2 linked regions of the Homo sapiens genome follow. The protein of the gene in region 2 purifies or fractionates together with the protein of the main gene of each other region. This does not show direct contact. Each region holds a gene or a part of one and is shown on either strand. Other genes may lie near its edges.

Region 1 (7,026 bases), on a different chromosome or scaffold from region 2:
AGATCAAAAACATATACACAAAACCTCAGTAAATCTAAAATTCTGAATGGAAAATTTTAGGGATACTTAGAGGCATTTTCCATTTTTTCTAATAAAGGGCATGCCTTTGGATAAGAAAATGAGATGAACGTGTGGCTTCAACAGTATCAAAATGTAAGAAATAATTTTCTAAACCATGAGTAATTACTAAAACAATGAGCTTCAAGCAAGGGATAAAATTACACTCCACAAGTATCAAAATAAATCAGCAGATGATTCAACAGCCAAATTAAGAAAGTTTTCAATGTAAATGAAGAAGGAGAAATTATTTTAGCTATGTTGGAAAGTTAACTATCACAGAGAAAAAAAGCATGCTAAAAAAAAAATTAGGACAACAGTGGAAAAGTATCCAGTAATTCCCATGAAAAACAACATATTAGGGAGTTCTATATTCAGGCAGAGAGAGAGAGAGAGATCGGTGTAAAGAAAATAGGTATAATCACAGTATTGGTTTTTTGTTTTTTGCCCAAGGAAGTAAATAAAATTTAAGAGGTGAGCCTCAGTAGACCTCATGACTAAACATGGTGTTGGAGAAATGTACTTTGCCTAAACGGAATAGCCAACAGATGAGGTGAGACACCAGCAACATATATACATGAGCACATGCATCTTCCCAGGGAGACGTGCAGTTTTGATCACATTCTTAGGGTGGTCTGTGACCCAACAAAAGGATAAGAACTACTTCTAATATAGAAAGTATTCCTGCAATTGGTAAAAGGTCAGAATAAATTATCTCTGTGGTCTCTTTTTTGTCTTCTCTAAAATTTGTCAGCTTAAATATTATACAAATTATAAAACTTTAGGCCTATAGGCAAACTGAGAAAAGCAAGGACAGAAAAGTCAGGACCTGCTCATGAGGTTCTAAGAATAATAGCATGAAATCAGGGTCCAAGCAGAGGCAGATCAAGTAGCCAGTGAGAAAGTGCTCATCAAGTTATCTGCCCCGAAGTCTCCACACCAGTGCTGAACACTACCCATCATCAGTCACTCCTGTGGTTTTAGCTATTAAATCCAGAAAAGTAGTTTCCAAGGTCAGACAAATTGAATGCCTATTAACACGGACTTGTTAGTTTGGGCTGAAATAAAGGGTTAGTCACAAAAGAGAGAAGAAAATAAAAATGCAAAAAAAGAGACGCTATACAGGACAGAATTAACCTCTGCTTCATTACAATGTGGCCAGGGTCAGCATAATGGGAAATGCAACAGTCATTAAACACTGAAAGAAGGACAGCGACCACCTAGGTTACTCTGATAACATCTCTAGAGTACTCACCTGGGCCAAAACACTTTCCATTTCTGATTTCTTTTCGACAGAACACTTCTTATCAGACATCAATTTCTGTAAATGAGCTGTAAGAACAGTGTTGACATATATCAATCAATGGGAAAAAGGACAATGCACTTTTCAGTTTCAATGCTAGACAATTAAAAAGTAAATCCAAGCATAAAGTTCTTAATTTACATGAATCCCACAGTTGATTTTACAACAGCAGTCATGGTATTGTCTTGATTCATTTGCTAATTAGAAAAATTATCTGTATATAACTAATTATCTACATATAACTTTTTTAAAAAATAAAGGACTTGATCTATATACTTAAGATCTGTGCACTTTGCTCTTTGAATGTTATGCCTCAATAAAAAATTTAATGAAAGACATCTGAGAGAAAGTTTAAACCTTTTATTTTGATCAATCCTACCTGAAGGAGATGAAGAACCTCACCTTTTAATAGATGGTCAGCACGAAAACATTCTCCATTTTTTACGTCTTTCACCATGAAGTCAGCAAATTTGTCTACATGGCCAGAGGTCCTAAATTAACAAATGCCAACCCAATTTGTCATTCTCATACAAATTACACATAGATATTACCTTATAAGATAATTCCCCATCAATATTTATATCCATCTCAAAGATGGAAGCTCCCATATCTATAGTAATGATGTATCCATGACAGTAATGGATGCCAGAGAAAATTCTTCCTCAAATCTATTTCTCACCCTCTCCCACATTCTTCCTTCCCATAAGAAAGAAGACATTAACTAGACAATAAAAAGACAATTCTTTTCTACAAGTTGTCATAAAGTCTGTACTATTCTTCAGGATCAATTAATCCATGCCTATGCCATTATTATTAGTGATCTAAGCAAAGGCCAAAATCACTGGGAATTTGACTAGTTAAGAATTCATGGCAGCTCAGTATAGACATTGAACCTTAAGGGAAGTGTTTTCTGCCACTGAAACCTGTACTGACATTGGTATTATCTCTACAAAGTTCCTATTGGTGGAACAAGTAGCTAAAATGATAGGTAGTCCTGATCTTATAGAGCCATCATTCAGAATTCCTCCTCTTCATTGGCTGAAATTATTAAGAGAACCTAACGGATGCCAATAGTAAAAATTAGCTCTCCACCAGTCAACCTTAAATGAATAATGACGAGTTACAAAATGGCAAGAATTCCTCTTTCAGGCCGGGCGCAGTGGCTCACGCCTGTAATCCCAGCACTTTGGGAGGCCGAGGCAGGCGGATCACGAGGTCAGGAGATCGAGACCATGGTGAAACCCCGTCTCTACTAAAAATACAAAAAAATTAGCCAGGCACGGTGGCAGGTGCCTGTAGTCCCAGCTGCTCTGGAGGCTGAGGCAAGAGAATGGCGTGAACCCGAGAGGCGGAGCTTGCAGTGAGCAGAGATCGCCCCACTGCACTCCAGCCTGGGGGACAGAGCGAGACTCCATCTCAAAAAATAAATAAATAAATAAAAGAATTCCTTTCAGTTTCACATTCTGAAATTCTGCCCTACTTTGGGAGGCCGAGGCGGGCGGATCACGAGGTCAGGAGATCGAGACCACCCTGGCTAACATGGTGAAACCCCGTCTGTACTAAAAATACAAAAAAAAAATTAGCCAGACGTGGTGGTGGGTGCCTGTAGTCCCAGCTACTTGGGAGGCTGAGGCAGGAGAATGGCGTGAACCTGGGAGGCAGAGCTTGCAGTGAGCCGAGATCAAGCCACTGCATTCCAGCTTGGGCGACAGAGCAAGACTCCATCTCACACACACAAAAAAAGGAAATTCTGCCCTACTTTCAATAACGTTGGTAGGAATAATCTAAGTTTCTGCATTGAAACTTTAAAACAAATAGTATTTAACTGAAAATCTCTACAAGTATACCTTTGCTCAGAACTTGTATTAAGGAAATAATCAAGGATATACCCAAAAATCCATCTATCAAGATATTCGGTGCAGTCAAAAATGAGAAACACTTTAATGCTTTCAATATGGCACAAACTAACATATTATGGCACTTCCATAAAACAGAATACTATGCTATCATTAAAAATGCTTTAGATGAATAGTTAATGATATGAGTATATGTTCATCAATATTACATGAAAATAAGCAGTGTACTGCTAACACTGAAATACATAGGGACGTACAGAAAAAACAGGAAGGACAAACACAATCATCTTAACATAGCTATCTGTGAGCAGAAGGTATACATTTCTTTGCTTTTCCATATTTTTCAGATTTTCTACATGAAATGAGTAGTTCTTTATAATCAGGAAGTTATTTAGATAAGTATATTAAATAATTTAATAAGTTATTTTATTTAAAGTAGGATACCCCCACTCCAAAGTAAGATCTCACTTTAAAACTGGCTCAGGGGTGAGCATGGTGCAATCGATCTCCAGGATCTGTTCCTCTTGGATAAAGTGCTGCCTCCAGGTCTGAATAATATTGTTCTTCAAAGCACAGCCAACTGGCCCAAAGTCATACAGACCACTAACACCTATAGAATATGAGAGGAAAACACATACTTTACCTTGTTACTCTGAACAAATGAAGGCAAGGAGACATGAGAAACTGATACCTATACTCCCTAAAAGTGTATTCAAGTCAACAATGCAAATCCCTCAATACTGAAGAACCTTACTTTCAGCTAGCTGATGGAAGTAAAATAAAAAAGCTCTTACGCCATTTACTAATTCTATATTTGTAATTTCAAGTAGGACTAGCCCAAAATCTACAACAAAAGTTCCCCCTTAGAGAACAGAATGAAAAAGCAGATTACAGTTTTCTGCCGTAAAAATTACAAAATAATTTCTCACCACATCTGATAACAATGATCTATAATTTTAGCATCCAATTCTCTAATTTTTTCCTGGGTATTTGAGGCACTATTTAACCTCAAAAGGGTAAACATTTACAGATCCACTTAGCCAAACTCAAGTCAACTTTCAGTGGCAAAGTACTATATGTCTAATGTTGTTGTAATAATCCGTTGACTATGAAAAATATAGTTTTACATTTCATCAGTGAATTGTATTTGCCTATATACCTTCATATGGCATTCACAGTGATTTATCTACATCCCTGGGAAGAATGTTTTCTCCTGGCAGATGACCATAAAGAATAATCTAAGGACTGTTTTATCACTGCCCCTGTGTGAAGGGGCATAGTATAGTTAGCCAGTACTACAATGGCCCTCTGTTACTCTTCAGTCTCCATTGCATTTTAAAAAGAGTACATGAGTACACAGACACATCAAATACATACATGGGCCTCCAACAATTCCCTACATCCTAATCAAAAAAAGTGCTGTCCAGGAATAAATGCAGTGGAGAAAAATAACAGGTATCACACCAAATGGTGACTCCAAGCAAACAAAAGCAAAACATCCATCCTCTGCTTTGTGGCCTGATACAAGTGGATACCAACAGGCAAGCCATGTTCTTGATTTAAGTATAATATTAGAGCCACTAACAACACAATAGTTCTTTTTGTCATTAATCCCTTACCTCCATAAATAGCAAAAGCTTGATCATAGAAAAACCTCCTCTTCAGGGTATCTTCCATTTTTGCTCGGTCTACAATATCATCTTTGGGCTGTAACGCCAGCTCCTGTTAGAGATTAAATAAAAAGTGAGTGAGTGGAGGGGTGGGTGGGAATCTGAACTTATATATCTGAATTTAGTTTATTCCTCACCAGAATTAAATATAAAATTTATCAAACAGACAAGATTTTGATAGGTTAAAAACAATAGAAGCCATAGGTCTTTTTTTCCCTTTGAGTAATATAAAAGATATCTTTACTTAATCATTTAGGAAAATATATGATCATTTCCAAGATTACAAGACTAAGCTTGACCAGGTGCGGTGGCTCACACCTGTAATCCCAGTACTTTGGGAGGCCGAAGTGGGTGGATCACCTGAGGTCAGGAGTTCAAGCCCAGCCTGGCCAACATGGCAAAACACTGTCTCTACTAAAAATACAAAAATTAGCTGGGCTTGGTGGTGGGCACCTGTAATCCCAGCTACTTGGGAGGCTGAGGCAGGAGAATCACTTGAACCCGGGAGGCAGAGGTTGCAGTGAGCTGAGATCGCACCATTGCACTCCAGCCTGGGCAACAGGGCGAGACTCCATCTCAAAAAAAAAACAAGACTAAGTTTACTTTGATGTAGATACTGATAAGCAATATAAAGCAATATTTGAATTGTCAGTGGATTGCTATAGCAAAATGGTTACTTTAAAACCCCAAAACAACTTAAGTTTGGTGATGGGAGATCTATTGTTTGAAAGGTCTGGGAGCAGGTATCAAATAAACAGACCTTTTCCTTAAAACAAACAAACAAACAAAAATCATTATTTTCAGGCATAAGAGAAGTCGTAAAGAAGAGCACAATCCTTTCCATGGAAATTCATATAGCGTATTGAGTCCAGCATTTGCAGGGTCAGGAAGGCTTTATTAAAAAGTTGACATTTTGAGTTGCATTTTGAAAGGATGAGGAGTCTACCAGGTAGAGGGAAAGGAGAAGGCGGCATTATGGATAAACAGATAAACCAAATGATACTTGTTCAGAAACTTTTCTAGGTCTCTCCCATCCAAAGAAATTAAAGATGAACAATCCTATACCTACTTATGTTCCTATTTTAGCATCCCAGGACTCACCTTTGCTTCCAGAACCCTCTTGCGGGCTTTGAGCTCAGCCACTGCTTTGTCTACGTCTACTTGGGGTGCTTTATCTTCTTTGAGTTTTCGCACAAGATCTCCCTAGCCAAGAAAGAGAATTTATATTCAGGATTGGTTTCAGAAGTTAAGAAATGTTAGGAATGTGTTTTTAAGCGTGCCTTTTAAAAAGTCTATGTAAGAATGATGCAATTCAGGCCAAGCGTGGTGGCTCACGCCTGTAATACCAGCACTTTGAAAGGCCCTCCTCACCATCTGAGATCAGGAGTTTCAGACCATCCTGGCCAACATGGTGATACACCATCGCTACTGAAAATACAAAAATTAGCCGGCCGTGGTGGTGGGCACCTGTAATCCCAGCCACTTGGGAGGCTGAGGCAGGAGAATCACTTGAACCCGGAAGGCGGAGGTTGCACTGAGCTAAGATCATGCTACTACACTCCAGCCTGGGTGACAAAGTGAGACTCCGTCTCAAAATGAAAAAAAAAAAAAAAAAAAAAAAGAATGATGCAATTCAAATGTTTATTATGTGAGTGATCATTATGAATCAAGGTCTCTGCCCTCTTCATTTAATAATCTAGAAGAACACACGGGCAAGTTAACAAATAACTGCTCACATGGTGAATTTTTTCCTTTGGGTATAGAGGGGTGAAAAAGGAGGAGACAAAAGCATTGATTAAAAAGTAGGAAAGAGCAAGATTTGTACTGAGAACACAGAAGAACCAATAAATTGACCACCTTCTTAAATCTCTCTCCTCTCGCTTACAAAAAAAAATAAAAACATTATTCAGTTTTCCTCCCACTTCTCTGACCATTCTTCTCAGTCACTGCTGGCTCATCTTCCTTTGCCTTTCTCTTTACAGTTGGAATTTTTTCCTTGCTAATATTTCTGAATTATTTTATTAACTTCCAACAACTTATACTAATTCCATATTTATAGTAATATGGTGGAATAGGTCATCTGAGTAAACAAACAAAATATTACCTATATAGGATGAAAAACTTTCAGCTGAGTAATTAA
Region 2 (7,300 bases):
CGCGATTTAATATGTTGCTTCCCAAATTTACTGGACCAGAGGATCTTTTTTCCTAACACTTATTAACATCCCAATACAAGCTGGTAAACATATCAATTTTATCAGTATATCTGATTGAAAAAAAGCACATCAGAATCTTCAATCCTCATTCTTCTGCTTCAACAATGCACAACGTTGAAATAAAATAATCTTTTAGGCAAATTTAACTAGGGCCGGGTAAGGTGGCTCACTCCTGTAATCCCAGCACTTTGGGAGGCTGTGGTAGGTGGATTACCTGAGGTCAGCAGACCAGTCTGGTCAACATGGTGAAACCCCACCTCTACCAAAAATGCAAAAATTAGCCAGGTGTGGTGGTACACCCCTGTAATCCCAGCTACTCGGGAGGTTGAACCCCGGAGACAGAGGCTGCAGTGAGCCAAGATCATGCCGCTGCACTCCAGCCTGGGCGACAGAGAGAGGCCCCGTCACAAAAAAAAAAAAAAAAAAAGAAAAAAGAAAGAAAGAAAAGAAAGAAGAGAAAGAAAGAAAGAGAGAGAAAGAAGAAAGAAAGAAAAAGAAAGAAAGAAAGAAAAGAAAAGAAAGAAGGAAAGAAAGAGAAAAACTTAACTAGATAGCAAGTAATCAGAAAGTAAGCTTCCAGATTTTCCCATCTAGTCTAATTTTCACTCCATTTCTCTGCTCAGGAATTTTAGTTCAATGACTAAGATGTGGGAGGAAAATAATGACACTCATCTTCTTATCTTTCAGAATTTACATTAGAGAGAAAATAAATTCTGAACCCTATCCCTAGAATCAGGCAAAACCGTGGTATGACTTAAAAGCAGGACCTCAGAAATGCCTCAAATATTCACTTTTTATTTCTTCAATACCTGTTTCCTCAGCCGTAAAACTCTATGGAATGGAGACACAAACTATGTGAAAACTCCCAACATTTAGTCTCCACCCTAAAGGTATCTCCCTTATCTGAACCTGATTTCCATATCTGATTTATTTATTTATATTTATTTATCATTTTTGAGATGGAGTTTTGCTCTTTTTTACCCAGGCTGGATTACAATGGCGCGATCCCGGCTCACTGCAACCTCCACCTCCTGGGTTCAAGCAATTCTCCTGCCTCAGCCTCCCGAGTAGCTGGGATTACAGGCGCGTACCACCACGCCCAGCTAATTTTGTATTTTTAGTAGACATGGAGTTTCACCACGTTGGCCAGGCTAGTCTTGAACTCCTGAGCTCAGGTGATCCACCTGCCTCGGCCTCCCAAAGTGCTGAGATTATAGGCGGGAGCCACCACGCCCAGCGCTGATTTATTTATTTATTTATTTTTTTTTCAGTAAGTACTTTGACTACGTTTTTTTCTTGGAACATGATGAAATGACCTGCAACCAGAATGTTGAGTACTTGATGAGGCACACCCCTCATCATTCAGGAACAGTTAACTACCAAATGAAGCACACTGGAGATTGACCAGTTTGCAAATTCACTACTTCACAGCTCCAAACTAAATGCAAAACCATTCTACTAAGTAGACACTGCAAAAGTCTGATTCTGAAGTCAGCTCTACTCTAATAATTTCAGTAAGCTATTTATAGGTGTTTCTGTTTTTATGTGGGTTTTTTTTTAATCTACTCTAAATTTAAACCTGCTCCTCATTTTCAGAAGCTGAAATGAGCATAAAGTTAAATACAGGAAATATATACACTAACGAGTACAATCCACCTCCTGTTCAGTTCCTTCGTGTAAAAGGCTGCAAATAAGAAGTCTCCCAGAGAGTTTTCAATTCTCTTACAATGGTACTTCCCTTTAAAAAAAAAAAAAAAAAGTGTACTTTCTTCCAGGGATAAAGTCGGTTGTAAATTTCAATAAGAAAGGTAAGAATACAATTATTTTTACTGGCAATAGCCAAATTAACACCAATTTTAGAAGATATCAGTCATGTCAGACACGATTCTCAAAGTCTCTTTCACTAACACTTAGGTCATAATAAACGACTCTCAAAACATGGAATAAAAGGGCCTAACCTTAATTTTTTAAGGCTCTAGGAAAGATATTTGCTCAACTTTCCATAGCTAGTATTTTTAATGGATGCACATGCAAGGGATAAATGATATTTTTCATAGTTGGTATTCTAAAGGGGTATACATCCAAGGTATAACTGATATTTTTCAGAGCTGGCATTTTTAATGGGTGCACACGCAAATGATAAATTATGTATAACCTATCGCCACAGACATTTGAAGGCCTCTTCCACCAGAGGATCAGGTCTAAGCCCATGAACCAAGTTATTGATTAGCAATGGTTTCTGTTGAGACAAGGGATGGCAGGAAGTATCACGTTTAATGGCACTACCGTGGCTCTAGCTAGGGTCTGTTTTCTATTGGGCCTCCCCAGAAACAAGTAAAATATTTTTTTAAAGATTTTTAGAAAAATGCAAGGTAAGTTCAAGAGACCTCGCCCGAGGTTCCACAGGTTTCCTCACTCACCTGGTGGGCCCTTTTGAAGGCAACCCCCTCCACACCTCAATTCCCTCAGCTCTCTCCTCCTTTTTCAATAAAGGCGTTTCTCTCCCCTTTCGGTTCCTTCTCCGCGCCAAGGCGCCCGCTAGCCCCCGGCAAAGGGGGCCCGCCTTCCTCTCAGGTGCCTTTCTCCCGGCCGCCACCCCCTCTCCCGCCCGTGGATGCCGGCCCCCGCCCCCGCAGCCACCACTGGGCGCCCCTTGCCCATCACCCAGACTTCGCACCCTCCACACTCCCGCTTCCGCCCGTCGCCTTGGGCCTTAGCGGCACCCGCACCGCACCCCAGCGCCACCCGGCAACACGCCCCCCGCTCCCGGCCCCCTTACCACACATGATGCCGGAGACACGGCCCGCGAGGCCAGGGGCGAGTGGCTGGCGGGATCGGGGGTGCACACACGAGCTTCGGTGGGCAATCTGCGGGCTCGGGGGCCGGGGTGGCGCCGACACGACTCCCTCGGGGATGCGACGGCCAAGGCAACGACAGCCTTCTCCGCCTCCCGGGCTCCGCCAGCAACCGCCGCCGGGCCCCGCCCCTCGGCGCGCAGCGCGCCGCCGCCCGTAGGCTCCATTGAACCGCTCACGCGCCGCTCACGCGCAAGTCCCGCCTCCCAGCGCTGCCCCGCCCCCCGAGCCCACGCAGGCGCTGGACTGCTGGCGGCGGCGACGTGGCAGTGGCTCGTGGCCGCGTCCGCCTGGAGTTCCTGGAGACGCCCGCCCCGGGGCGAGCCGCGGGAGGGACCGAGCCGAGAGGGAGGGAGAAACTCAGCACCTGGCAGGGAATGACGGAAAGAGAAGGATGGAATTGTTAGCAAAGCAATAGCCCGGGTGCGTGCCCCGTGCAGCCCCAGGCCCCAGGCGCCAGCACTGCACGAAGCGAGGAAAGAGGAGGAAAAAAGCAGGAAGTATGAAAAGGGAATCCTGGGGAACATAAGGCTGAAAAAAATTGCAAAGAATTAGGTTGAGGTGGGAGGAGAGAGATAACAAAATTCTTGACTGTAAAGCCCCAAAGGTCAGCCTCTCTGGTAATAAGCAATTCAATTCCTTGTGTAATATGCTTGGCCCCTAAAAGCCCTCCGCATCCGTTGCCTCCATAACCCTCAGTTTATTGTGGAGGGGTAGAGGAGGAATGTAAGGCTCAACTATCCGACTATGAGCCTGGACGTAAGAAACTGCTGGCCCACCTCCTCCCATGACCCACCTGAGACGGCTAGGAATTCCCTAGCTTTAACAGCCGCGCGTTTGACTTACGAACGATTCATTCTATGAATTAATGCGCCATGTCTGACAAGAGAGACTTGATTAGAGAGGGATGATGTTTCTGAGAATTTATTACCTGGGCATTTGCTTTAAACAGCCTTAAATGGTATCTTTAGTCAAATGTGGAGTAATCAGAACTCTATAATGGCTCTAGAGTAGAGTAGTATCAAAAACGTACATGGCACACAGAATTCCTGGAGTGCTGACTGCTGTTCATGTGTCTGGTCTTAGCCTGCTGACTGCTGTTCATGTGTCTGGTCTTAGCCGTCCTTCCAGCCCTATACACTCCCAACAGGCTCAACAGGTAGTTCCTCAACTGGGCCAAGATTCTCAAATCTTTTGCACACTTTGGTTACTCTGCATAGAATCCCCACCACGTCTCTGTTTAGATGCTACCTCTTCAGGAAAGCCTTTTTTATCCCCCCTAGACAGACTTGGAGACATGCATTAACCTCTTACTCTTTGAGCTACTCACTGTAAAGAAATATTCTTTGATATTTTATGATTTTCTGTATTTTCCCACTGGGCTGTAAGTTTCTTGAAGCTAGAACTAGATTTTACATACCCAACACTTTTAGACCACAGCACAAAGTAAAAGATCAAATTTATTTTGGAATGAGTGAAAAAAAGTCCTATTTTCTTAGCGGAATTAACCTTCTATGGCTGGTTATATGATTAAGTGAGCATAAGGCTTTCAGTTCTTCTTACGGGGAAAAGTGCCTTTTTTCACTTGCCTCAGAGAAGCTGAAAAATGTCACATTTAACTAAGCAGAGTATTTCTCACCTAAAAGCCCTTTTGATATTTCAATCCCTTAAACAGGTCCCTGGATCACCCAGAGCAAAGTTTAAAAAAAAAAAAAACAGTGAGCTTTTTGGTAATAATACATTTCTTAATTCAAGAAACAAAAGACTGTGGATATACATCTAGCCTCAGAACCCTCATCTAAGGCTCTGGTTAGAACTCCGTTGTATTACCTAAAAGCCAAGGTATGGTTCCAATGCTTAAGCAACATCTTTGTGCACTGGCAGCAAACCTGTCAATGCCACAAAGAAAATGTCAGCAGTACTACCAGAGTTCTCATGCTCCAACTATAGTAATCTATTTAACCCTTTGCTTTCTTCTTCTGCCTGCTACTCCACCACAATGACTATCAATTTGTCTTATCCATCTCCACTCAACAAACTATTTTGGAAGATATTTATGAATCAGTTGAGAAGAAGAAACTAGTGTTACAGGTCTTTTAGAATTTGTCTAAATACAAATTTTTAAAAGTTTTCAGTAAAGACTGGAAAGTCCCCAACTCAGAAAAAAAAAAAAAAGTTAAAAAAAAAGTAAATAAAAAAATAATTTGACAAAAAAGAGAAGAAACTTTGAAGGACAGTATTTTCCCAAATCAGCCTTGAAGAACCTCACTAACCCAACACAACAAAGAACTCTTTGTAACCATGCGCCAGTTAAGATACACACTTTGGGTGCCTGACCTCCCTTTATACAGAGCTCCGCCTTAACTGGACCTTTGGGAATAAGGCCTGAAGGAGAAGAAAATAAATGATCTATGAAGGGAAGGGGACATCTGGGTCTAATTCAAACAAATGAGGGAATGGATTTTCTCTCCTGATCAAAACATTCTGAACGACAACAAAAAAAGTAATGATGGCAAGGGGGTGTCATTCACCATCTCTTTATGTAAGTCCATTTCCCTGTTCGTAGATTCAGTCCCATTGGATCTGATGGCTGAAGGCCATCAGAGCTTCCAGTTGCCATTACTAACGCAACGAAGAACCTTAATTGAAATAGCTGTAGTCATTTTTATTAACCCTTATGTGAATTCCAGTAATAGCAATAAAATTATTAAAATAAAAATTCCTTTGCATAAGAATATGGGGAGCTGGGGTACATATGTCCTACTTTTTAGGGAGCTTTGTGGAGAAATGTACCCCAGTGGACAGAGAAGATGGTAGCAAGTATCAAAGGAAAAAGAAATAGGTTGAGCCCCTGAGGCCTGTGAAAAGAAATGAGGACAAGAACAAAAGGCACCAATCAAGGCCTCAGAAAGACCCTTTGAGTGAACCCCTTTAGCCTCCCGCAGTTCATCCCACACACTTTGGCTCCAGAGGGACCTGTCAAAAATACAAATGTGATCCAGTTTTTCCTTGCTTCCAATATCGTGGTTACTCTTCACCCACAGGATGAGTACTAGATTTCCCAATTCAGTGGCAGCACTCCCACAGAAAGAGCTTTCACAGAGCTCTTCAAGGATGCAGCTCTCACAAATTTATTTCTCACAGTCATGGTGAAAGATGTGCCTAGAGGGCAGAGCTTTCACTGACAAATAATAAATAGAAGACCACTCAAACTAAAGAAGGGGATTTACTAGCTCACGTAATTGGAAAGAACAGGAATACAAACAGCTTTCAGCACATTTATACCCAGGGACAGAATGTTGTCAGAACTCTTGAACTACCTCTCTGACCTCATGGACAGGGAAATAATCCTCAAATAGCTCTGTAATCACAACTTTATAGCTTGCAGCCCAAAATGAGAGAGGCTATTCCTCCATCCTTACTTTTTATATTCTAGACAAGGATTCTGGCCAGTCCAGCGTGAGTCACATGCCCCACTCCTGTGGCAAAGAAGGCAAGACATTGTGATAGGACAGCTCCACCAAAGCCCTATAGAGTCATATAGCCACATACGGCAAGAGGAAGCAGTTCTTCAAAGGAAAGGGGAAGGTGTTGCTAAAAGAAGAACACCAAGAAGGCACACAAAAAAATATGTCCACCGCATCAAGCAAATATGACCTGATTGCCCCCCAGAAAACCTGAGGCTTGAGGACAAAGGATGCTAACTCCAACTAGAAGCTATGCCCTCCCCAATACTCCTCTCCAACGTGGCTCCAAATTTTTCCAGTAGGCAGAAGCTGGGGCAGAGTTTTCTAGCTCTGCGAGAAAGAAACTCTTTCTACTGCCAAGAAAGTCAACAAATTGAAAACCATGAGATAAACTGGTCCTACCTTTAACCTACTATTTCTGTCCTGTTGGATGTGAACAGAGCCACAATAAGGGGTGGACCATTCAGGGAGCTGCCTAGAACTGAAAGATCACTTGAAACGTAAGGACACAGAAAAAGTACTATTTTTCTAGGGTTTCTTTCAAGGGATACTTGAAAAGTTGCTTCTGTGTATCTTGTAAGCTCCTAGGGAATAATCACAGATAACACTGATATGGCAAAATGGAGTATATGGCTGGGATTTCCCAAGAGGGGTGTAGATTCCCTCTGGACTGGAAAGCAACTAGTTTCATATTCCTGCATAAAAAAATGGACACACATGTACATACCACTGCTTTTGTCTACTGTGGTTCTAGACTCTTGCCCACTCGTAAGTAGCTATGAAAGCAAGGAAAGCTTCTCTCCTCCCTCAAGTAGGAATACTCAAGAGGGGTATGAGCCCAACTTCCTTAAGGCAGAATAGTATAGCTATAATGTGCATAGGCCCTGCAGCCAGAATGCCAGAGTTCATGTTCCTAGC

The links. The genes of interacting proteins can lie anywhere in the genome.
Region 1: the proteins of GFPT1 (region 2) and GARS1 fractionate together in Homo sapiens (co-fractionation; 3 studies listed by BioGRID, with this or other methods). This does not show direct contact.

Annotation. Positions count from the first base shown.
Region 1 is NC_000007.14:30,597,859-30,604,884, reverse strand, and holds part of GARS1 (glycine--tRNA ligase isoform 1 precursor), read right to left. Parts: intron 6,090-7,026; coding exon 5,988-6,089; intron 4,939-5,987; coding exon 4,836-4,938; intron 3,827-4,835; coding exon 3,685-3,826; intron 1,852-3,684; coding exon 1,763-1,851; intron 1,390-1,762; coding exon 1,313-1,389; intron 1-1,312. UniProt on the Homo sapiens protein: Catalyzes the ATP-dependent ligation of glycine to the 3'-end of its cognate tRNA, via the formation of an aminoacyl-adenylate intermediate (Gly-AMP).
Region 2 is NC_000002.12:69,384,226-69,391,525, forward strand, and holds the start of GFPT1 (glutamine--fructose-6-phosphate aminotransferase [isomerizing] 1), read right to left. Parts: upstream 3,003-7,300; 5' UTR 2,847-3,002; coding exon 2,840-2,846; intron 1-2,839.